7 linked regions of the Homo sapiens genome follow. The protein of the gene in region 6 purifies or fractionates together with the protein of the main gene of each other region. This does not show direct contact. Each region holds a gene or a part of one and is shown on either strand. Other genes may lie near its edges.

What was found.
Region 1: the proteins of PAXIP1 (region 6) and DCAF13 purify together in Homo sapiens (affinity purification with mass spectrometry, with the first as the bait; one large-scale study listed by BioGRID). This does not show direct contact.
Region 2: the proteins of PAXIP1 (region 6) and OGA purify together in Homo sapiens (affinity purification with mass spectrometry, with the first as the bait; one large-scale study listed by BioGRID). This does not show direct contact.
Region 3: the proteins of PAXIP1 (region 6) and RAB3GAP2 purify together in Homo sapiens (affinity purification with mass spectrometry, with the first as the bait; one large-scale study listed by BioGRID). This does not show direct contact.
Region 4: the proteins of PAXIP1 (region 6) and SRSF4 purify together in Homo sapiens (affinity purification with mass spectrometry, with the first as the bait; one large-scale study listed by BioGRID). This does not show direct contact.
Region 5: the proteins of PAXIP1 (region 6) and MAP4K4 purify together in Homo sapiens (affinity purification with mass spectrometry, with the first as the bait; one large-scale study listed by BioGRID). This does not show direct contact.
Region 7: the proteins of PAXIP1 (region 6) and MOB4 purify together in Homo sapiens (affinity purification with mass spectrometry, with the first as the bait; one large-scale study listed by BioGRID). This does not show direct contact.

The regions. Positions count from the first base shown.
Region 1 is NC_000008.11:103,418,386-103,421,885, reverse strand, and holds part of DCAF13 (DDB1- and CUL4-associated factor 13), read right to left. Parts: intron 1,623-3,500; coding exon 1,423-1,622; intron 912-1,422; coding exon 804-911; intron 1-803. UniProt on the Homo sapiens protein: Part of the small subunit (SSU) processome, first precursor of the small eukaryotic ribosomal subunit.
Region 2 is NC_000010.11:101,794,445-101,797,944, reverse strand, and holds part of OGA (protein O-GlcNAcase), read left to right. Parts: intron 1-1,973; coding exon of another isoform or gene 1,974-2,104; exon of another isoform or gene 2,105-2,464; coding exon of another isoform or gene 2,465-2,544; exon of another isoform or gene 2,545-3,500.
Region 3 is NC_000001.11:220,150,454-220,153,953, reverse strand, and holds part of RAB3GAP2 (rab3 GTPase-activating protein non-catalytic subunit), read left to right. Parts: intron 1-547; coding exon 548-769; intron 770-2,189; coding exon 2,190-2,348; intron 2,349-2,547; coding exon 2,548-2,703; 3' UTR 2,704-3,500. UniProt on the Homo sapiens protein: Regulatory subunit of the Rab3 GTPase-activating (Rab3GAP) complex composed of RAB3GAP1 and RAB3GAP2, which has GTPase-activating protein (GAP) activity towards various Rab3 subfamily members (RAB3A, RAB3B, RAB3C and RAB3D), RAB5A and RAB43, and guanine nucleotide exchange factor (GEF) activity towards RAB18.
Region 4 is NC_000001.11:29,150,901-29,154,400, reverse strand, and holds part of SRSF4 (serine/arginine-rich splicing factor 4), read left to right. Parts: intron 1-3,500. UniProt on the Homo sapiens protein: Plays a role in alternative splice site selection during pre-mRNA splicing. Represses the splicing of MAPT/Tau exon 10.
Region 5 is NC_000002.12:101,892,449-101,895,190, forward strand, and holds the end of MAP4K4 (mitogen-activated protein kinase kinase kinase kinase 4), read left to right. Parts: 3' UTR 1-2,242; downstream 2,243-2,742.
Region 6 is NC_000007.14:154,993,125-154,996,624, reverse strand, and holds part of PAXIP1 (PAX-interacting protein 1), read left to right. Parts: intron 1-2,853; exon of another isoform or gene 2,854-2,855; coding exon 2,856-2,899; intron 2,900-3,500.
Region 7 is NC_000002.12:197,536,566-197,540,065, reverse strand, and holds part of MOB4 (MOB-like protein phocein), read right to left. Parts: intron 1-3,500.

The sequences.
Region 1 (3,500 bases), on a different chromosome or scaffold from region 6:
ACAAATCAAATGCTCATTGATGAATGAACGGATAAACAAAATGTGACACATACAATGGAATGTTATTTAGCCATAAAAAGAAAGGAAATTCTGACATGTACTACAACATGGATAAACCTTGAAGACAATTATGTTAAGTAAAATAAGCCAGACCCAAAAGCCTTATTCCACATACACAAAATGGTATAATTCTTTAAAATATGCTTCTATTTATATGAGGTACCCAGAATAGTCAAAATCACAGAGGCAAAAAGTAAAATAGTAGTTACCAGGGGTTGGGGACTGAGGGGACAGAGGAGTTATTGTTTAATGACTATAGTTTCAGCTGGGGATGATGAAAAAGTTCTGAAGACAGATGGTGGTGATGGTTGCACAGTGATGTGAATGTACTGGATGCCACCAAACTGTATATTTAAAAACAGAGAGTAAATTTTACGTTCCGGATATCTTGCCACACACAGGCACAAAACTTCGATGATTCCTTATTATCTGACTAACAAAAGTACAAATTACTCATCTTAGCATCAAAAATCCTCCAGAGTAAGCCAAACTCTTTCTAGACTTACCTCTCATTAATTCCACTTTTGTGGTAAATTGAATATTAGTTTAATCATGTTAAGTTATGGGGAAGGCTGAATTATATAAAGAAAACTAGTAATTTTCAAGGTTTAATAAGCTATTTTGCATTGTGAAACTCCAAAAGGGCCTAGGAACAAATAAATGAACTTGAAAAAAAATGTATTCAATTAGATTATTCTTACCTATGTTGATCAAATTTAATGACTTAATGGTATTATACTTACAGTGAAAAAAGAAGTCCCACAAAAGCGAGTACATATTCCTCGTACAAAGCCTTCATGTGCTTGTATTGTACGGATACAATTCCGCTGAGTTAGATTCCAAATTCTAACCTATGATAAGGCATACCAGGAAATTTCAGTGAACTATAAATGTAAAATGTTCAGGATAAATTCAACACTGACAAGGCTACGAATCACTCTACTGGGCAGCTAAAACCAAAATCCTTTGGATTAAAACAATGCAATGCATATGGATAAGTATACTGATGAGCAAAAAATACAACCTGACAAATACTCTGTTGATTCTAAAGTGTTACAAAACTTTTTCACTTGCCATAGTAGGAAATTAGGTGTTGACAACATCTGTGAAAAAACTCATACTTAAATACTTTAATTATAAACATGATTATTTAATTTACTGTCAAATTGATCCTTAAACTACTGCATTTATAATTTCTTAGGTTTAAAGAAGAAAATACTAAACAGTATTCCTAACGAAATTTAGTCTTGAGAAGTAAATTGAAATCCAATAAAGTAAAACCTACAGTAACTAAAAACTAAAGGGAAAACATTTGTAATATAACTACTTTTAGTTGAAAATATCATCTAGATTGACACTTGCCTCTCCATCACACGCCCCAGAAAGGACAGTAGCCAGCTTCTCTGGATGCTTTGCCAAGCAATTGACTCCATCACGGTGACCATCCAGCGAAGCAAGGAATGGTTTTGCAAATACTCGTTCCAGTTTGGTAGCATTTAAAGCTCTTATATATTCTCGTGGGACCTCAAAAGGATGTAAAGCAGGATCATAGTTTCTTGGAACTGAAATAAGAATGATCCTTCTTAATAATTCACACTTAATATTTCCTGCAGTCTTCCTCAGCTAATCACTCTGTTATTCAATAAGCATTTAGTTAGTGACATTGTTCTATGCCTAACACTAAGAATACAAAAGTAGAAGACCTGTTGTTCAGAAATCTTTCTGAAATTACTGGAAAATCATGGGATGCATACATCTTGCAAAACAATTAGACCCTAGGTATATATACATGCAGCATTTCCTTTTTTTTTTTTTTTTGAGACGGAGTCTTGCTCCGTCACCAGGCTGGAGTGCAGTGGCGCAATCTCGGCTCACTGCAACCTCCGCTTCTCAGGTTCAAGCAATTCTCCTGCCTCAGCCACCCGAGTAGCTGGGATTACAGGCGCATGCCACCACGCCCAGCTAATTTTTCTATTTTTAGTAGAGATGGGGTTTCACCATATTGGTCAGGCTGGTCTCGATCTCGTGACCTCGTGATCCACACGCCTCAGCCTCCCAAAGTGCTGGGATTACAGGCATGAGCCACCGTGCCCGGCCTCCCTTTTATATGTCCTAGTACCCTCTTCAACTGGGTTGTAAGTGTTCACTGTCAGGGCTTCCAATACACTTTTCATTTGTACTTCCTTATGCCTAGCACAGTTTCTGGGACAAAATATGTGCAAGATGTTTGCTCAACAGAACTCTAAGCTTCCTGTAGGGCAGGGAACATTATTAATCTCTGGTGCTAAATACTGTGCTGATAGACACACGAAGTTGTGATTATGATGATATTATATAGCTATCATTTACTGAGCACTTTCTATGTTTGTTTACTTACTTAAAAAAGACTCACATAAGAGTTCAAGTGCCAGGCGCTGTTCCAAAAACCTTAACCGTTTAATCTCCACAGCATCCTATGTGTTAAGTTCTATTACTATCTCACACTTTATTGATGGGAAAACTGAGGCATAAAGAGGTTAAGTAACTCGAATACGACACGGTGGAGCCAGGATTCAAACCAAGGCAGTATGGCTCCAGAATCTATGTTTTAACTGTCCTGATACGCTGCTAAACACATTGTCTTGGTTAATAATCACGCTTAGGGCCGGGCGTGGTGGCTCACGCCTGTAATCCCAGCACTTTGGGGGGCCGGGACGGACGGATCACGAGGTCAGGAGATCGAGACCATCCTGGCTACCACAGTGAAATCCCATCTACTAAAAATACAAAAAGTTAGCCAGCGGTGGGGGTGGTATGTGCCTGCAGTCCCAGCTACTCAGGAGGCTGAGGCAAAAGAATCACTTGAACCTGGGAGGTGGAGGTTGCAGTGAGCCGAGATCGCGCCACTGCACTCCAGCCTGGCTGACAGAGTGTGACTTCATCTCAAAAAAAAAAAAAAAAAAAAAAAAAAAAAAAAAAATATATATATATATATATATATATATATATATATATATATATAATTATGCTTAGAAAGTAATTTTAAGCTCGTATGTCTAAAAAAACTCAGTGAGTAAAAAGTAAATGCATCTTCTTACCCCATGACTTCATCCTGCTGTTTCTTTCTGACTCCCTGGTAATGGTGTTATATCTAACATTCAACAAAGCTCTAGCCTAGGTCATTCTTATGTATTCCATCTTCCATATTCCCTACTACCAAAACTCAAAGTCCTACTCATCATCTCTTTGCAACACTTACTCATCTTTCAACTCTCTATTTCTAGTTTTTTGTGTTTTGTTTTTGTTTTTGTTTTGAGATGCGGTATCATTCTGTCACCCAAGCTGGAATGCAGTGATATGACTATAGCCTACTGCAGCCTCAACCTCCAGGGCTTAAGTGATCCTCCCACCTTAGCCTCTCACCTCAGCCTCCCAAGTAGCTTGGACCTGAGGCATGCACC
Region 2 (3,500 bases), on a different chromosome or scaffold from region 6:
ATATTGTCCCTTTAAAAAAAATTATCCCACAGGGAGAAAAACATTTAGGGAATTGGCACATTTCCAAGTCTCTTCAATTCGTTGCCTAGGTTTCTTTCAAAAATAGGCATTATTGAAGACTTGAGATGCAAGTCTTAGTAAATACATCAAGCACATTAATTTTTCTCCCTTGGGCTAATTCAGCATAAGTATCTTAAAAGTATGTTAGAAAGTACTGACTTTAACTTGCTCTGACTGAATGCTTTCTGGATGGAACCCTGTATACCACTTTTATCTGATTTGGAGATGAGACACTATGAAATGTGACTCCACAAGCTTTCTGCTGCTTGCTGTGTCTTGATAACATTAATGCTATGTTTAACAGAACAATTGCTGAAATGACCTAAAGGGCCTGGCAAGAGGAAGCCATCCTCCCAGCCCTGTGCGCATGCGAGCTTTAGTGTAAGGCTATTCTGGTGCTATTCAGTATTATTTCACGTGGCTTTTTCTTTATCCTTCTACCAAGTATTGGTTTTACCAGGGGATAGAAATTGTAATCCCCTAAACATCTCTGCTACATTAAATGGACTTTTGTATGTCTCCTTTGAACACTGATTTTTTTTTTTTAAATTGTCAAACTTGGTAAAAAGCACCAGCATGGCCAAGTTTCTCTAGGGACTTCATTTCATTTTCAGGTTTTCAATCCAGCTATAAGGAATATGTAATGGACTTATATACAGCACACAGCAGGCAGCAAGGCTGACTGACATGTCATAGTTTTCATAGTAGTCACAAATACTATGATGGGTTTCATGGTCTTGGTTGTGAAATAGATATCTGAAACACCGTGAGCTTAGAATAAAAAGTAGTAGTGAGATTTTCCACTTTCTGCCTGTATACCTTTGAGCTCTTAAATATTTAAAAAAAAAAAAAAAAAGTTTCCCTGTGATACAACTAATTAGCTACTAAAAGTAGAGTCTCAGATTGTTAATTTGAAAATAGATAACTTTTTTTGGATTGCTGTAATAACAGGTAGAAGAGAGTATTTTGACCTCATGTTAAAAGGCTCTGTATAGCTTCGGGCGCGGTTGCTCACCCCTGTAATCCCAGCGCTCTTGGTGGCTGAGGTGGGTGGATCACTTGAGATCAGGAGTTCGAGACCAGCCTGGTGAAAACCAGCATGAGACCAGCATGGTGAAACCCTATCTCTACTAAAAAAATACAAAAATTAGCCAGGCGTGGTGGCGCATGCCTGTAATCCCAGCTACTTGAGAGGCTGAGGCAGGAGAATTGCTTGAACTCAGGAGGCAGAGGTTGCAGTGAGCTGAGATCACACCATTGCACTCCAGCCTGGGCGATAGAGGGAGACTCCATCTCAAAATAAATAAATAAATAAAGGAAATACTGACCGTGCGCAGCGGCTCAAACCTGTAGTCCCAGCACTTAGGGAGGCCTAGGCGGGCAGACCACAAGGTCAGGAGTTTGAGACCAGCCTGGCCAATATGGTGAAACCCCATTTCTACTAAAAATACAAAAATTAGCTGGGCGTGGTGGCATGTGCTTGTAGTCCCAGCTGCTTGGGAGGCTGAGGCAGAAGAATCACTTGAACCCAGGAGGTGGAGGTTGCAGTGAGCCGAGATTGTGTCACTGCACTCCAGCCTGGGTGACAGAGCGAGACTTCATCTTGTGGGGCTGGGGGGAGGCTCTGTATAGCTCCTGTACATGGGAGACATCTACCCTTAGGCTCAAGAGACCTCAATATTGGTTGCTGGATGACAACATTTGCCTTCCAGGTTTCTGCTCAGGTTCTTATAATTCATTCTTATAGGGATTTAAACTTAAGTTTCTAAGGCCCTTAGGAATTTTGAACCTGAAATCTGGATTATTGAGCTTGAAATGTATTACAGAAAACATTTGATATTCAGTTTTTAATTTAAGAATTATTAAAAGTTAAATTCTTAATGATACACAGTATTGTTTCTTTCTCTTCTCAGGGTTTATCTCTGCACTGAGCATTTATGGTGGTAGCTTTCCAAAATTATATAGATACCTCTTACACAATCTCAAGCTCTTACAGCAAGCTTGTCCAGCCTGTGGCTCAACACAAGTTTGTAAACTTTCTTAAAACATTGTGAGTTTTTTTATTTTTTATTTTTTTTAAGCTCATCAACTATCATTAGTGTATTTTATGTGTGGCCCAAGACAGTTCTTCCAGTGTGGCCCAGGGAAGCCAAAAGATTGGACACCCCTTGTAACATCTTAGAAGTTTTAAATAATTATCTTCATATCCACATAGCTTTACAAAAGCTCACGACAGGGAGAGTATTTTCTTGGTTCTGTAGTAATTTCAGGGGGTTTACTGATTGGAACCCTTCCTTTTCCTCCTCTCTCCAGTCCAGCTGGCATTCAGTCCTTTAAACAATGTGGCTATGCAGTACTTTTGATTACTAATGACTTCTATTATCTTCTTCCCCATTGTGTACAGATGGGAGAATCCTCAGCACAAGTGTCTACTACTATTGGATGGACAGCGGCAGATGTTCACAGCGCGTCATGATTAATTAGTTTAAATTGCAAGGTTCTATCTGTGAGGTAGCTCAGGTAGATTTAAGGGCGGTAGACATGAACTGAAGTCACGTTTGCGCAGCGACTGAGGCATTAACCATGTTTTCATTTACACAGCTCTTCGTACATGCAGCTTTTTATTGTAATAGTTGGAAGTGCTAGTTATGTTGTAGTCTCAAAGTAGGGGGTAGGGGAAATTGGCTGATCTTAAAGTTTGAGAGGTATAGTTTTTTTCCTGCAGTGTAAATTACACTGAGTTACGGAATGGGACAGGTTCTCGTATAGTCTAAATTTTGACCCTGTTTCATATTTATTTTACAAATACTACATTTTATGTTTTTTAAAAGTACCCCTACCCTTGAAAAATGACAAACCAGATACAAACTCTTAATGGGCCTGAATTGTTAACAAAAAATTGGTTTGCTTTGGGACTGTCTGACTAGCACACTATATTTGTACTGATGAGACTGTTAACTTGAACAGGAGGTAGAATGCTGTCTTCCAATGGAAAAGAACTATATTGCGCTGCTTTATCTTGTCAGAAGACTAGGCAAGTGATTTTGATTTGGCCTCCAAACATTTGCCTTTATGTCTTACTGTTAGCTAGCGTTATTGCCTATTAAGTTAGTTAACTGGTGACCTTAAATAGAGACTTCTGTATTCCATGTGTATGTTCAGTGTATTGCAAAGATTATTATAATGGCTGGTCAGAGGAACCAGATACTGTCATACTTTTAAGAAAAGTATATTTAGCTCTGGGCAAAATAACATCAATTGGCTCTCCTTAGTTCTCAGAATCTGTCAGACTGGTATTATTAGCCAAGTCTGATTTTGAATTGTTTTTGTCCAAAAAAATTTTTCTCATTATGTTTCATTTTGTCAACTTAATTTCTTGTATTTTATTCTACTGACCTTAGTTTTCTGACAAGATTAATCCTTCTCCCCCGCCCTTTTCC
Region 3 (3,500 bases), on a different chromosome or scaffold from region 6:
TTGGATTTTGTTTTTGTTTCTTGGAAAAAAAAACATAAGGGAAAAATCTAGCTGGCTTTTGAAAAGAATGACTACTTTCTATCGCAAGGACAGAAAACCAAACAGCACATGTTCTCACTCATAGGTGGGAGTTGAACAATGAGAACACTTGGACACAGGGTGGGGAACATCACACACCAGGGCCTGTCGTGGGGTGGGGGGAAGGGGGAGGGATAGCATTAGGAGATATACCTAATGTAAATGATGACTTAAGGGGTGCAGCACACCAACATGGCACATGTATACATATGTAACAAACCTACACGTTGTGCACATGTACCCTAGAACTTAAAGTATAATAATAAAAAATAATAATAATATTTAAAAAAGACCAATTTCAAAGTATTCTTGAGAGCTAGTTGTTTAAATGATGTGTTCCTTTTTTGATAACTAAACAATTTAATGGAAAAGCCACTATAAGTGACAGAAAAGCTAACAATACTTGGTTTAGGTATTTTAAAATGAAACAGTAACAATGCATTGCTCTATCTCTTTCTCCATTTTCAAGTTCTTATTGAAAGTTGTCAGTGCAGCTGTCCAGGCCCAACATTCAGCCACAAAGGTCAAAGATCCCACAGAAGAGGCCACACCCACTCCTTTTGGGAAAGACCAAGATTGGCCAGCTCTAGCTGTGGATTTAGCCCATCACCTTCAAGTTAGTGAAGATGTTGTTAGAAGGCATTATGTGGGGGAACTATACAACTATGGAGTTGACCACTTAGGAGAAGAGGTAATCATGACCCTTTGAATGTTAATTGGGCTCAAGTTATAAAATTGATAGTTGGAATAAAGAATCAGTTAAGTTTCCAATGAAGCCTTTTGCTCTTCCTTTTATTAGAACATCTAGGTATAAAAATAGAACAATAGAATATTTTTTAAAACATAAAATTATAATCAAATAATTCCTACAGTGTGCCAGGCCTGCCCTACGCACAGGGATATAGCAGTAAACAAAACAGACAAGGTTCCTTCATCATGGACTTGATAGTCTGCTGGTAGGAGCAGAAAAGCATGCTAAATTTTGCATTGAATGATAGGTGCTATGAAGAAAATAAAGAGGGCCGGGTGTCGTGGCTCACACGTGTAATCCCAGCACTTTGGAAGGCTCAGGTGGCAGATCACTTGAGCCCAGAAGCTCGAGACCAATCTGGGCAATATAGCGAGACCCCGTCTCTAAAAAGGAAAAAAATATTTATTTTTAAATTGAAAAAGAAAGAAACAGGATCATATGAATAAACAGGAGCCACTACAGTAGAGTGGTCAGAGAAGGTGACATTTGAACCGAGCCCCCAAGGAGAAGCAGCAGCCAGCTACTCAGAAACTGGGGGAACAGTGCTTGAGACAAGAATTACAAAGGCCCTGAGGTGGGGACTAGAATGACTAGGTCCAGGACTAGAAAGGCCAGTATGGCTGACCAAACATAGTAAGCAAGGAATAAAGAAGTATGGCATGAGGCAGGGAGGCTGGCCCGGGCCATGGCCCTATCCTAGGTCTCGGAGCCCATGGTTATTCTAAGTGTATTCAGAAGCCATTAGAGGGGCTGGGCGTGGTGGCTCACGCCTGTAATCCTAGCACTTTGGGAGGCCAAGGTGGGTGGATCACTTGAGGTCAGGAGTTCAAGACCAGCCTGGGCAACATGGTGAAACCCTGTCTCTACTGAAAATACAAAAAATTAGCTGGGCGTGGTGGCATGTGCCTGTAATCCCAGCTACTTGGGAGGCTGAAGCAGGAGAATCGCTTGAACCCAGGAGGTGGAGGCTGCAGTAAGCTGAGATTGCACCACTGCACTCCAGCTTGGGTGGCAGAGTGAGACTCCATCTCAAAAAACAACAAAAAAAAGCCATTAGAGGGTTTCAAATAGACATGACATGAAACTCCTTTTATTTGCCAAAAGTTTGAAAACAGCACACTGAGTAGCCACATTGAATTGAAAGATTAGGTGATGAGAGAAAAAAAAATTAACCAAGGAACAGAAATTTGGGTTTAAATGCTAAGTTTGATTTGGATTTATCTTTGGTTGTATACAATCAAAAGATAAATGGCCACAGTTCAAAAATCAACTAGAATCTCTTCACTGGCAACCCCTTTCCTATAGAATAAACAAATCTGCTCACTCTGACTGTATTATTTCTCCATGTTCCTATCTTCAGGCCATTCTACAGGTTCATGACAAAGAGGTCCTTGCCTCTCAGCTGCTGGTGCTCACGGGGCAAAGGCTGGCTCATGCGCTTCTCCACACCCAGACAAAAGAAGGAATGGAGCTGCTTGCCAGACTTCCACCCACACTGTGTACTTGGCTGAAAGCAATGGTCAGTACAATAGAACGAGATCAGGCAAAAGGTCATTGGATGTTTTCTTGAGTGCCTGGTTAATAACAGTTATGAAGAAAATTTGACAAGTTTAATTCACCTAGTTACAAAGAAAAGCATTTTTATGTAATAACTCTTAAGTCAATAACAATTATTGTTTAGTTGTCTATAATAGGTTATTTTTGTGTCCCATTTGCAGGACCCCCAGGACCTTCAAAACACTGAAGTGCCAATTGCAACAACAGCTAAACTAGTAAATAAAGTAATTGAGCTTTTACCAGAAAAACATGGGCAATATGGTCTAGCCTTACACCTCATTGAAGCTGTGGAAGCCATATCTCTTCCTTCTTTATGACACTTACCTACTGGAAATAGTCTAAAATTATGATTATAACATGAAGTAGTGCATGGTTATTTTACATAGTAAGACCTGGAATTTTATGGGAAAAGTATGTCTTTTTTTTTCCTTTTGTAAAATAAATAAAAGTATATACAACTTTTAAAAAGTGCAACCCTGGCTAAATTCCACTCCTTTGGTTAATACTGAAGATAAAATATAAACAAATGTCAACTCTGTTATAATTAATACAGATGTTTTACTGTTTATTTCTAATTCAAACACTTAAGTAGCTTTATTGTTAAACTTTGCTATTTAAAATTGGTTATAATTTAGATTATGTTCTTATAAGATTCTATATTTCCTATCTAAAATGTTGTTGTAATTCAATTTAAATGTGTTCATGTACAGTCCCCATCAGTAGCGTATAGAACACCCCACTCTCCTTTAGTAAATGTTGAGAAAATGCCTTTGTTGTCATGCTCCAAATCCCACACTGGGCTGCCACCTGGGAGTTCTGGATACCGAAAGGTTCCTTTCCCAGAGGTTCTGCTGTTGCCATCAGAGGAGGATGACCGTGCTTGAGGAGGAAGAATGGGTTCAAGATCATCATATTCATCAGAAGGGGACACTAAATAGAACCCTTAACCTGTTGTACTTGCCAAAATTGAGAATCAGAGATGTGTAAAATGCAGCAAATTAATTATAATGTAAGTTAAGATTTGCTTTTTGCCAAGTTGCAAAGTTGTATCCACATCAGGTCACTGTAAAAATGTATTATCTTGTAAAACTTATGTAAAAAAAAAAAAAAAAAA
Region 4 (3,500 bases), on a different chromosome or scaffold from region 6:
ATATGGTGAAACCCCATCTGTACTAAAAATACAAAAATGCTGGGCGCTGTGGCGCATGTCTGTAATCCCAGCACTTTGGGAGGCCGAGGTGGGTGGATCACCTGATGTCAGGAGTCGAGACCAGCCTGGCCAACATGGCGAAATCTTGTCTCTACTAAAAATAACAAAATTTAGTTGGGCGTGGTGGGTGCCTATAATCCCAGTGACTCGGGAGGCGGAGGCAGAAAAATTGCTTGAAAATTGCTTGAACCCAGTAGGGGCAGAGGTTGCAGTGAGCCGAGATTGTGCCATTGCACTCCAGCCTGGGCAACAAGAGCGAAACTCCATCTCAAAAAAAAAAATGGTGTGGTGGCGCACGTACCTGTAGTCCCAGCTACCCAGGAGGCTGAGGCATGGGAATCGCTTGAACCCAGGAGGCAGAGGTTGCAGTGAGCCGAGATCGCACTATTCCACTCCAGCCTGGGCGACAGGGAGACTCCATCTCAAAAAGGGAAATCAGAGGCCGGGCACAGTGGCTCACGCCTGTAATCCCAGCACTTTGGGAGGCCAAGGCGGGCAGATCACCTGAGGTCAGGAGTTCGAGACCAGCCTCAATATGGAGAAACCCCGTCTCTACTGAAAAAATACAAAAAAATTAGCTAGGCGTTGGTGGTGCATGCCTGTAATCCCAGCTACTCGGGAGGCTGAGGCAGGAGAATTGCTTGAACCTGGGAGGCGGAGGTTGTGGTGAGCCAAGCGCACCGTTGCACTCTAGCCTGGGCAACAAGAGCAAAACACCGTCTCAAAAAAAAAAAAAAAAATGGAAATCAGAGGCCACCTTTCACATTTCTTCTTGGGACCCCTAGATCCTACTACCTTGGTTGATGGCACACATGGCAATTTTGTCTTACTTAGCACCTGAACAGGCCAGGCACTGGGCTAAGCATTGGAAAGGCTTTGTAAAGAAGACAAATGGCCAGACGCGGTGGCTTACACCTGTAATCCCAGCACTTTGGGAGGCTGAGGCGAGTGGATCACCTGAGGTCAGGAGTTCAAGACCAGCCTGGCCAACGTGATGAAACCCCATCTCTACTAAAAATACAAAAGTAAAAAAAAATTAGCCAGGCATGATGGCACACGCCTGTGGTCCCAGCTACTAGGGAGGCTGAGGCAGGAGAATCGCTTAAACCGGAACCCAGGAGGCAGGGGTTGCAGTGAGCAGAGATCACTCCACTATACTCCAGCCTGGGCGACAGAAAGAGACTCTGTCTCAAAAAAAAGACAAATATGGTCCTTGCCCCCCTGAAACTCAGTCTAGCGTAGAAGATGAGTATTGAATAAACCGTGCTATTGTGACAAGAAAATGCACACAGCACAACTAGTCTAGAGAGCTGGCAACAGCTTCCCTAAGGACATGCTGTAGAACTGAGCCCTAATGAATAAGGCAGAGAGATGGTGAGCAGAAGAAAATGCCTTTCTTTCTTTCTTTTTTTTTTTTTGAGACGGAGTTTCTTTCACTCTGTCACCCAGGCTGGAGTGTAGTGGCACAATCTCGGCTTACTGCAACTTCCACCTCCCGGGTTCAAGCGATTCTCCTGCCTCAGCCTCCTGAGTAGCTGGGATCACAGGTGCACACCACCATGCCTGGCTAATTTTTGTAATTTTAGTAGAGACAGAGTTTCACCATGTTGGGCAGACTGGTCTCGAACTCCTGACCTCAGGTGACCCACCCACCTCGGCCTTCCAAAGTGCTTGGATTACAGTCTTGAGCCACCGTGCCCGTCGAGAAAATGCCTATCTATCTAACAGAAAAGGGTGTTTCTGAAGGCCTGGGGGCAGGAGAAAGTTTTCCAGAGTAGAGAAGCTAATATAGAGAGGTAACGGGAGGAGAGTGGCTTGAGATAAGGCAGAGAAGGACCAGATATACTGACCATTAGGCCAGAGCAAGAATGGAAGAGTAGTGAGAAGTCACTGGAGACTTTTCAGGTTTTGTTATTTAGGTCTTTTGACTTTTTATTATGGAAAATTTGAAATTTATATATGAAGCATTGGAGAACTCTGAATTGCACCTCCCACTCCTCCAGCTTCTGTAGTTTTTATTTTGCCAGTCTTGTTTCACATCACCCGCTCCTGCTGCATTGTTGTAAGGCAAGTCTAGACATCTATCATTCCATCTGCAACTGCTTCAGTATGTATCTGTAGTATTTTAAAAGAAACCATGATAACATAGCTAGCAAAATTAGCAATAATTCCATACTATGATGTAATATCTAGGTTGTATTCCAATTTTTCAGTTGTTTGTTTGTTGTAGAAATGGAGTCTTGCTATGTTACCCAGGCTGGTCTTGAACTCCTGGGTTCAAGCGGTCCTCCCACCTCAGCCTCCCAAAGTGCTGAGATTACAGACGTGAGCCACTGCACCCTGCCCTAGTTGTCTCAAATAGGTATTTTTGCAATTGGTTTCTTCAAACAAAAGTTGAAAGAATAGTTAATGAACACCTGTATACCCTCCTCTGGCTTTAACAGATAGCATTTTGCCTTTTCTCTCTTTGTATGTATGTATTTATACAAGCACACTGTACATTTATTTTGTTGTAGCATTTGAAAGTAAGTTGTAGAAATTATGATACTTTGCCCCTAAATACTTCAGCATGTGTCTCCAAGAATGAGGATAACCACAGTTCTGTTTTTTCACCTAAGAACATTAATAGTAATTCCATCTAATTACTAAATGCCCAGGCCATATTCATGTTTCCCCAGTTACTCCATGGATGTCTTTATAGCTGGGTTTTTTCTTAACCGGGATCTAATCCAGTCATGTAGTACAAGGGGTTTTTAGGTAAAACCTAATGTAGTCAGGCTTTTAGTGTGGAGCAGTTCCTTCATGACATTTATTTTGCTTAGGTTTGGGTTTTTTTGTTTGTTTGAGACGGACTCTTGCTCTGTCGCCCAGGCTGGAGTGCAGTGGCACCATCTCAGCTCATTGCAGCCTCTGCGTCCCAGGTTCAAGCTATCCTACTGCCTCAGCCTCCCAAGTAGCTAGGATTACAGGCGTGAGCCACCACTCCTGGCTTATTTTTCTTAGTTTTTTAATACTCACATTCTGTATTTATCTGTTTCTTCTTAGTATCATTGAACTTGTATCTTATCCCCTGAACTTCCTATATACTGGAAGTTAGGTCTGGAGAGGTGTGATTGAGATGCAGGTTAAACATTTTTAGCAAGAATACTTCATAGGTGATGGTGCCTGGGCAGCTTTGAAAGTTTCCCTCTTTCTGTCATAATGAGATGGTCTAGGCCCATCTTTGTGTACTACTTCCTGCTTTACGCCTGGAGTCAGTCATTTTCCCAAGGAGTCCTGGTTGGTAGAAAATAAGAATCTACAGTCTGGATGCATTAAAAAAATTTTGTAAAGCTTGGATTGTCGGTCTCTTTAAAACAGCTCTCGTCACAGTGAGTTGAATAGATCGTAAAGGGGAAAAGTATACACAGAAAGGCTGGTTGTTGAACAAGGGGAGAGAT
Region 5 (2,742 bases), on a different chromosome or scaffold from region 6:
GGTTGATGGGGCAACTGCAGCCCATGACACAAGATCTCATTGTTCTCGATGTAGAGGGGTTGGTAGCAGACAGGTGGTTACATTAGAATAGTCACACAAACTGTTCAGTGTTGCAGGAACCTTTTCTTGGGGGTGGGGGAGTTTCCCTTTTCTAAAAATGCAATGCACTAAAACTATTTTAAGAATGTAGTTAATTCTGCTTATTCATAAAGTGGGCATCTTCTGTGTTTTAGGTGTAATATCGAAGTCCTGGCTTTTCTCGTTTTCTCACTTGCTCTCTTGTTCTCTGTTTTTTTAAACCAATTTTACTTTATGAATATATTCATGACATTTGTAATAAATGTCTTGAGAAAGAATTTGTTTCATGGCTTCATGGTCATCACTCAAGCTCCCGTAAGGATATTACCGTCTCAGGAAAGGATCAGGACTCCATGTCACAGTCCTGCCATCTTACTTTCCTCTTGTCGAGTTCTGAGTGGAAATAACTGCATTATGGCTGCTTTAACCTCAGTCATCAAAAGAAACTTGCTGTTTTTTAGGCTTGATCTTTTTCCTTTGTGGTTAATTTTCCTGTATATTGTGAAAATGGGGGATTTTCCCTCTGCTCCCACCCACCTAAACACAGCAGCCATTTGTACCTGTTTGCTTCCCATCCCACTTGGCACCCACTCTGACCTCTTGTCAGTTTCCTGTTCCTGGTTCCATCTTTTTGAAAAAGGCCCTCCTTTGAGCTACAAACATCTGGTAAGACAAGTACATCCACTCATGAATGCAGACACAGCAGCTGGTGGTTTTGTGTATACCTGTAAAGACAAGCTGAGAAGCTTACTTTTTGGGGAAGTAAAAGAAGATGGAAATGGATGTTTCATTTGTATGAGTTTGGAGCAGTGCTGAAGGCCAAAGCCGCCTACTGGTTTGTAGTTAACCTAGAGAAGGTTGAAAAATTAATCCTACCTTTAAAGGGATTTGAGGTAGGCTGGATTCCATCGCCACAGGACTTTAGTTAGAATTAAATTCCTGCTTGTAATTTATATCCATGTTTAGGCTTTTCATAAGATGAAACATGCCACAGTGAACACACTCGTGTACATATCAAGAGAAGAAGGAAAGGCACAGGTGGAGAACAGTAAAAGGTGGGCAGATGTCTTTGAAGAAATGCTCAATGTCTGATGCTAAGTGGGAGAAGGCAGAGAACAAAGGATGTGGCATAATGGTCTTAACATTATCCAAAGACTTGAAGCTCCATGTCTGTAAGTCAAATGTTACACAAAAAAAAATGCAAATGGTGTTTCATTGGAATTACCAAGTGCTTAGAACTTGCTGGCTTTCCCATAGGTGGTAAAGGGGTCTGAGCTCACACCGAGTTGTGCTTGGCTTGCTTGTGCAGCTCCAGGCACCCGGTGGGCACTCTGGTGGTGTTTGTGGTGAACTGAATTGAATCCATTGTTGGGCTTAAGTTACTGAAATTGGAACACCCTTTGTCCTTCTCGGCGGGGGCTTCCTGGTCTGTGCTTTACTTGGCTTTTTTCCTTCCCGTCTTAGCCTCACCCCCTTGTCAACCAGATTGAGTTGCTATAGCTTGATGCAGGGACCCAGTGAAGTTTCTCCGTTAAAGATTGGGAGTCGTCGAAATGTTTAGATTCTTTTAGGAAAGGAATTATTTTCCCCCCTTTTACAGGGTAGTAACTTCTCCACAGAAGTGCCAATATGGCAAAATTACACAAGAAAACAGTATTGCAATGACACCATTACATAAGGAACATTGAACTGTTAGAGGAGTGCTCTTCCAAACAAAACAAAAATGTCTCTAGGTTTAGTCAGAGCTTTCACAAGTAATAACCTTTCTGTATTAAAATCAGAGTAACCCTTTCTGTATTGAGTGCAGTGTTTTTTACTCTTTTCTCATGCACATGTTACGTTGGAGAAAATGTTTACAAAAATGGTTTTGTTACACTAATGCGCACCACATATTTATGGTTTATTTTAAGTGACTTTTTATGGGTTATTTAGGTTTTCGTCTTAGTTGTAGCACACTTACCCTAATTTTGCCAATTATTAATTTGCTAAATAGTAATACAAATGACAAACTGCATTAAATTTACTAATTATAAAAGCTGCAAAGCAGACTGGTGGCAAGTACACAGCCCTTTTTTTTGCAGTGCTAACTTGTCTACTGTGTATTATGAAAATTACTGTTGTCCCCCCACCCTTTTTTCCTTAAATAAAGTAAAAATGACACCTATTTTATGTGGCATGAGTTTCGAATATGTTCTGACCCTTCAGAATGTTTCCTTCCTGTGAGGATCCATATTTTATGCATACCTGCCTACCCTGAGCTTCCCGTACCAGAGCAGGCTCCTGTATTTTGCTATTTCAGATGACAGGGGCTTGCCCAAGGCCAGGTATAGATTACAAAAGTAGCAAATGTTTGTCTAAAGACCTCAGAGATGAAGTGGGAGATGAACCTCCATCACCAGGTTCCTGAAGACAGTATGGAGTAAAGCTGGTCCTTAAAGAAATGTCACATTTTTGCAGTTTTGAATTTGGATCAAAAAATACAACAGCATGATGTCTGTAATAGGTCAATTAAAGTAGCTCTTTCTCAGTTTGGTGCATAAATACTAACTTGGGTTTAATAATTGGAGCCCCTTCAATGTAAGGTCATTGTGTCTTCAGCGCTGGGGTTCCCCATCAACCCCCCCATAGGCCTGGTAGGCATGATCGCCGTCGGGCAAATCTGGG
Region 6 (3,500 bases):
TGATATCATACCCCACAAGTGGGGTCGCCGCTGTGAGGTGACATTTCAGAATGGTGATCAATTCCTGAGCTAAACAAAGCAGTCTTCCTTCATTTTACACAGTATTCATATTCCTGGGAAAGTCAGTATGTAAGGCTAAGTAGAAATACCCATTACTTATACAATTAGCAGTTAGCATCTAGGATTATCACCATTTTGCCAAGGTAGTTTACTGTATTCAAACCCAACTTTTTCCCCCTCTGGCTATAGTATTTTAAAATGAGTGACAGACATATTTCATCTGTACCCAGTAGCATTCCAGCCTGCTTGTAATTTTTGACAGCACCTGTATTGTCCAGGGACTATTGTGTTACATTACAAGGTGGTAGAGTACTTCGGAGCTGACTCAACAGTTTGCCTTCACTCTAAGATATTTCAAGTAGATCCTGATATTCTTAGTTTGAACCTTATGGGCCTGTCTTATTTTGGATCCTGCTGCTAATAGTTGAGTCTGAATTCATATGACTGAAGGCTGAGACCTGGTTCCCTAGAGGCATATCCCTTGGCCTTTACCTTGATAGGAAGTTTGACAATGCATTTTAAAAATAAGGCATCTTTATACACAGTGACAGTTTATCTATCATTTACATATTTGAATCTTATAAATGTTTAAAACTTGCTTCTTTGGGCACCAAAACTTTTAAAATTATTTTTTAAATTGAGATATTTTTCTCAGTGGCCTTTGGGCATCATTGGAAATGTTAATTTTGCTGACTTGTAGTGGGCTTATTTTATTTAATTTTTTTTCAGACAGAATCTCCCAGGCTGGAGTGCAATGGTGTGATCTCGACTCACTGCACCCTCTGCCTCAGGGTTCAAGCGATTCTCCTCTCTCAGCCTCCCTAGTAGCTGGGACTACAGGCGTGTGCCACCACGCCCGGCTAACTTTTGTGTTTTTAGTAGAGACGGGGTTTCACCATGTTGGCCAGGCTGGTCTCGAACCTGTCACCTCAAGTGATCCGCCCGCCTTGGCCTCCCAAAGTGCTGAGATTACAGGCATGAGCCATCGCGATCAGCCAGCTTATTTTTATATATTGTTCTTTGCCTTTAGGATAAATAGTTCCTTATCACTTTGCTTTTGTAGTTCTCCATTTCTGCTTTGTACTGTGGCCTACATCCTAATTTTGCATTATTTTATCTAAACTTATCTGAAGTAGGGCCTCAGTGATTCTACTGTGCTTGGATGGGACTTTATGATAGCCAGCAGTCTTTAAACTGGGATACCCTACCCAAGCTCCCTGGGGGGAGATATTCAGCGTGTATGCTGTGTGGATGGTTGTAAGGTGATAGATAACATTTCCAGACTGGCCCTTCCTAAAGCTGCCTGAGAACACACCTGTGGTCACAGTGGCCCCTCCCACTTTACACAGGAAGAATCAGACCTTCACCCATCCTAATCTTGTAGTGCATTGCCCCAGGCTCTGAAAATTCTCGTGGACAGCAGACAAAAGGACAATTAGAAAGACTGGTTTTAGGGACTGTTCCCTTAGTGCTCAGTCATGGCATCATGAGGAGAGAGGGGTTTCTGGGTGTTGCTGTTGAAAGGAGAGCTTGGTCTACATGAAGGTGTTCTGAATTCAGAAGTGTCAAGGCCAATACCGATTCCTGATGCTGGCCCATTTTTTTAAATTTAACTGGAATTTTTCTAGGACTATCAAAAAATGTGAAGATATGTTGGATAAGGCACATAGATCGAAAAATTAAGTGCCTTCTTTCAGATTTCAGATAACTAATCCAGTAACTTAGTTAAAACCTTTGGTAAATGTCAAATCATAATGAAGTAATTATCCCAGGCACAGCTGCCAATCTTTATTTTATTTTATAAAATGTTTAATATTCCTCTTCTCACAGAAAATATACTTATTTAGAGTTATGCTGAAAAATTTTAGATGTCATCTAAAAAATGATAAGGGGGGCATTTCATTGTCTGAAATTTATTTAAGGTGTACATGACAAAAATAGCTTGAAGATCATTAGCTTGGAATATGACTTGCAGGAGAGCAAAGACTGCGTTTCTCGTTTTCATTGTTACATCCCCAGCGCCTTGCACCATCTCTGCATAAAATAGATTCTCAATAAATATTTGATGAATGAATTGATGGGTGGGTAGTGAGTATATATGTCTGTTTCAGTTGGCTGAAGTTTCTGGAAGTCAGCTGCCTTCCAGAATGTAGTAATGGGGGCATTACTACATTTTGATAGTAATTTTCTGAAGTAGAGCTATCAGGAGAATGATTTGTATAATTATAAAAATTAAACATAGAAACAAGATAATTTTTCAAAAATATAAATTACCCAGAAAGGTAGTAATTAATCTGTTTTATAATTAATCTCAGTTTTTAGAATTTATAAAAATATTTTCAGGCTTACAAACATTGTATCTGCTTGACTTCACTAAAACAAACAAACACCTCATGAATTTAGACTTGACTGAATTTGGGATTCAAGAAGGGAGCGTATGAGAGGCTGACTATGCCCTGGATGAGGTGTCGGCGGTGGTGGGGCAGGATGGGTGGCAGTTCCCCTGTCCTAAATGTGGGGGTCAGCAGTAATAAGTGTGTAAACCTGGAACTTAAATGTTTATACATAATTTTAAAAAAATATGGTAGTGCTTCATTCTGTAATTGGATTTTTCATCTTGGGTATTAGTAACTAATCTTTGACTATAATATTTCTATTTGAATATTCATACTTGTAATCTGGATGTTTTAAAATAGGTTGTAACAGAGACTTTTAATTTCTAAGAACAACACTAGTAAAATAATATGCCACTTGTAAATTGAGAATACTTTTTGATTTAATCTTTTCTTTTTCAGCCTTCTTGGGTGATTCTGTCCGTTCAGTGTGGAACTCTTCTGCCGTATCCTTTTTTTTGAGTGGGGGAGGAGGGAAAGGGTAACTCTGGGTTTAAGACTGAAAGAAATGATAGTTAATGGAGTGAAAAGTGGATTCATTCGTTAGGACAGATTGTTTTGTCTACATCTTATATTCCTACTATTTTCCATCCTGTTTCAAATTTTATGTACCTGATCCTTGTTATTACTCATGTTAAAAGGGGGCTCAGCTGTGACAAGTAACTCTAGGCCGGGAACTGGAGGCAGGAGCTCCGGTTCTCTTCAGCTTTTGTGGTGCTAGCTAGATGAGGGATATTTCTAAAATTCTAAGTCTATGTGAATCAAATCATGAATTGTTTGAAGAGTAAGTTGGGGAAGAGAACATGAGAATAAAATTTATAACATGCATTGTTAATCCTTTTAATTGCATTGGGTAGAACGATTATTAATTCAGTGCACCTGTGCTGTGGGTTGAGTACTGAAAATAGAGGGGTGAAGAAGACCATTTCTGCCCTCAGGGAGCTTCCTTGCTTGCATTGTTCGTTCATGGAGCATTCATAGATGTGCCCTTGCCCTGGCACTGTGTCAGGAGTCAGAAATGAGGCGTTCTACAGGCCTCCTGTTTAC
Region 7 (3,500 bases), on a different chromosome or scaffold from region 6:
AGCAATTTTTAGAATATTAGCTGCAAAAAGAGAATCCCATCAGTATCATCCCTCCTCCCTCATTACCATTCTCAAAACCACCTAAACTGACAATGACACATTTCTTCTAAAGGCTTACAGATTAAAAATAGAAAACCAATAACCCTCATAACATTCAATACCAGAGTTAAGTGAGCTGATCATTCTCTTATATACTAGAAATTAGTACAATTTTTCAGGGAAGTAATTTGGAAATATTTACCAAGACTTTTAGGAAGTGTATACTTTTCGACTAAGTCATTCTTCTAAGAATCTATTGTAATGAAATAATCAGATCTGCATGCAGATAAATGTATAAAGATGTTCACAGGAGCTATATATGCATATGAGAAAATTTCTGAATTGTAGAAAAATTCAGCAACTGGAGGGTAATAAAATGTTGGTACATAGAAACATACAAAGAAATTACAGCAGGGCGCAGTGGCTCAGGCCTGTAATCCCAACACTTTGGGAGGCCGAGGCAGGTGAATCACTTGAGGTCAGGAGTTCAAGACCATCCTGGCCAAAATGGTGAAACTCCATCGCCACAAAAATACAAAAATTAGCCGGGCATAATAGCGGGTGCCTGCAATCTCAGCTATTCAGGAGGCTGAGGAGGGAGAACTGCTTGAACCTGGGAGTCGGAGGTTGCAGTGAGCCAAGATCACACTACTGCACTCCAGCCTGGGAAACAGAGTAAGGCTCCATCTCAAAAAAAAAAAAAAAAAAATTACATTACAATTGCACTGAGGCCATCAGTTTTAGACAGCTATTTGATAAAAAGACAATCTTCTATGTCACAAAGGTAGTTTTACAGCTGTCAAAACACTGAACGTGTTCCCTCCTAAAGTCCTACCTATTAATATTTAGTTCAATGTATCAGGTTAGATAAATCAATACTATGTTTCCCCATCAGAAAAATTGAATCATTTTGGTTCCCAAAACAATGCAAAGCTAACACCTATATAATCAGAAGACAAAAAAAAATCCCCCCAAAAAAGAAAAAAACAGGATATATGTGAACAAATTTGGTGGAAAAACTTCATTTACTTACTTACTGCACATTGTAACAGAGGAAAACAAAAAGGCAAGGGTCAAATTTTCAGTTGTTTGTAACTGCATTTCCTTTCCAGATGCCTAATAATGCTGTCCTTAGATTACAAAAATAACATTATTTCTAAATCACCGTATCACCCTCTACTGTCCCCTATCAAGTAGACTGCATGTTATGTGTTTTTTAGTTGTTTTCCACCAAGTGGTAATAAAGACTGGTTGTGGTAAGTTTCTTACCCAACCCTTTTATAGCCAAAAGCAAAATTAAGTTGATTCAGCAGGGCTGTGGGTATAATCTGTGGCAAATAATGCAAAACTCACAACTTCAAGTTAATTTAATACAGGGCTAACATGTACACAGTTGTGCAGCTGAAGAGACCAACCAGAGCTGGAATCCAGCCTACATTCCAGTCACCACGCATGTATCCGGACATAAAGGAGTACTTTTTCCTAATCATTAAGACTCAATATGAGCTAGTGGGAGATATGACTGAAGTCATGACCCAATCTAAATTAACATCATTATATAATCAACTGCATTAACTAAAAATGGCAAGTATACAGCCTCAAATCAATAAAGGATGTATGCAAAAAAAAAAAAAAACCTCTTCCTGGTCAACTAATAAAATGTACACAATACAATAAAGAGATAAAAGAATATATACGATAGTTAATATACAACCCAGACCAAAAAGTGGCTAGTAGAAAAAAATAACAAAAGTAAAAATAGCACCAGAACAAATGAAATACTTGTGAGAAATATTTCATGTAAAGTTTTATGTAATGTTTTATATAATGTTTCATAGAATAAGTTAAATAGGGAGATAAATGTTTTCTTAGATCTGAAAAAAAAAAAACCCTTGTAACACTAAAATCAGCCCCTATTTGTTAGGAATTATGCTTGTAATGGAAAAAACGGCCAAGTGTGGTGGCACACGCCTGTAATCCCAGCACTTTGGGAGGCCAAGGTGGGCAGATCGTGAGGTCAGGAGATCAAGACCATCCTGACCAACATGGTGAAACCCCATCTCTACTAAAAATACAAAAATTAGCTGGGCATGGTGGCGTGTGCCTGTAGTCCCAGCTACTTGGGAGGCTGAGGCAGGAGAATCGCTTGAACCCATGTGGCGGAGGTTGCAATGAGCCGAGATCACACCACTGCACTCCAGCCTGGTGACAAAGCGAGACTCGAGACTCTTGTCTCAAGAAAAAAAACATAAGAAAGCAGTTATTTTCAAGGCTGATAAAAATAAAGCAAAGGATGTACTACACTAAAGTGCTCTCTGTCTTGGGTTGTAAAAATGGGAAAATATCTACAGACTCGTACTTTGAATTATTGTGCATTCATATATATTAAAAAGTTAGAAAATAGTCAAGTAATTTGTCTAAAAACTGGCAAAGGATACAAAGAAGTCTTAGCATCCTGAAATTGCTGAACTGTTATGACACGACATAATGTCTTAGCCATTTCTAAAGAAGCATGCAGCATCAAAAAGTAAATATTTTTAAAAAGTGCCTTGTCTACAAGTTGAGGCACACAACACAGGAAACATGGTCTAATTTATTCAGGAAAAGTCATATTTCTACTCTATTTATCTAAAAATCAACTTACAAATAATAAGCCCCAATGAACACATACTGCATTCTCTATATTTATTAATAATCTGTCAACTCATCCCAGCTCCCATTTGCACTGGAAAATTTATAATTTCAAGAAACACCTAGTAACTTCAGAATATATCTACTTTTAATGTTATCTCCACCTATCCACTAGTTATCAATTTTTTCATTCAAAGGGCATTATAAAAAGCACCAAAACTCCTTACTTCAGGATTACAATTAATCTCTATTTACCAAAGAGAAGACTGGAAGTTTGCAATAATTTACAGGTAACTTATCAGATACCAAGCCTAGACTAGGAACTGGAAGTAATCCTCTACAAAAACATAAAGTGGCCAAGTGCAGTGGCTCATGCCTGTATAATCCCAGCACTTTGGCAGGCTGAGATGGGAGGATCACTTGAGCCCAGGATTTCAGGACCAGCTTGGGCAACACAGTGAGACCCCATCTCTACAGAAACAAAGGAAAAAAAAAAGACAAGTCAGGCACGGTGGCTCACACCTGTAATCCCAGCACTTTGGGAGGCTGAGGCGGGCAGATCATGAGGTCAGGAGTTCGAGACCAGCCTGGCCAACATAGTGAAACCCCATCTCTACTAAAAATACAAAAATTAGCTGGGCATGGCTGCGCCTGTAGTCCCAGCTACTCGGGAGGCTGAGGCAGAAGAATCACTTGAACTCGGGAGGCAGAGGTTGTGGTGAGCCGGGATCACACCACTGCACTCCAGCCTAGGCAACAGAGCAAGACTCTGTCTCAAAAAAAAAAAAAAAAAAAAAAAAGACAAAAGATGACACAGTTATGCAAAAATG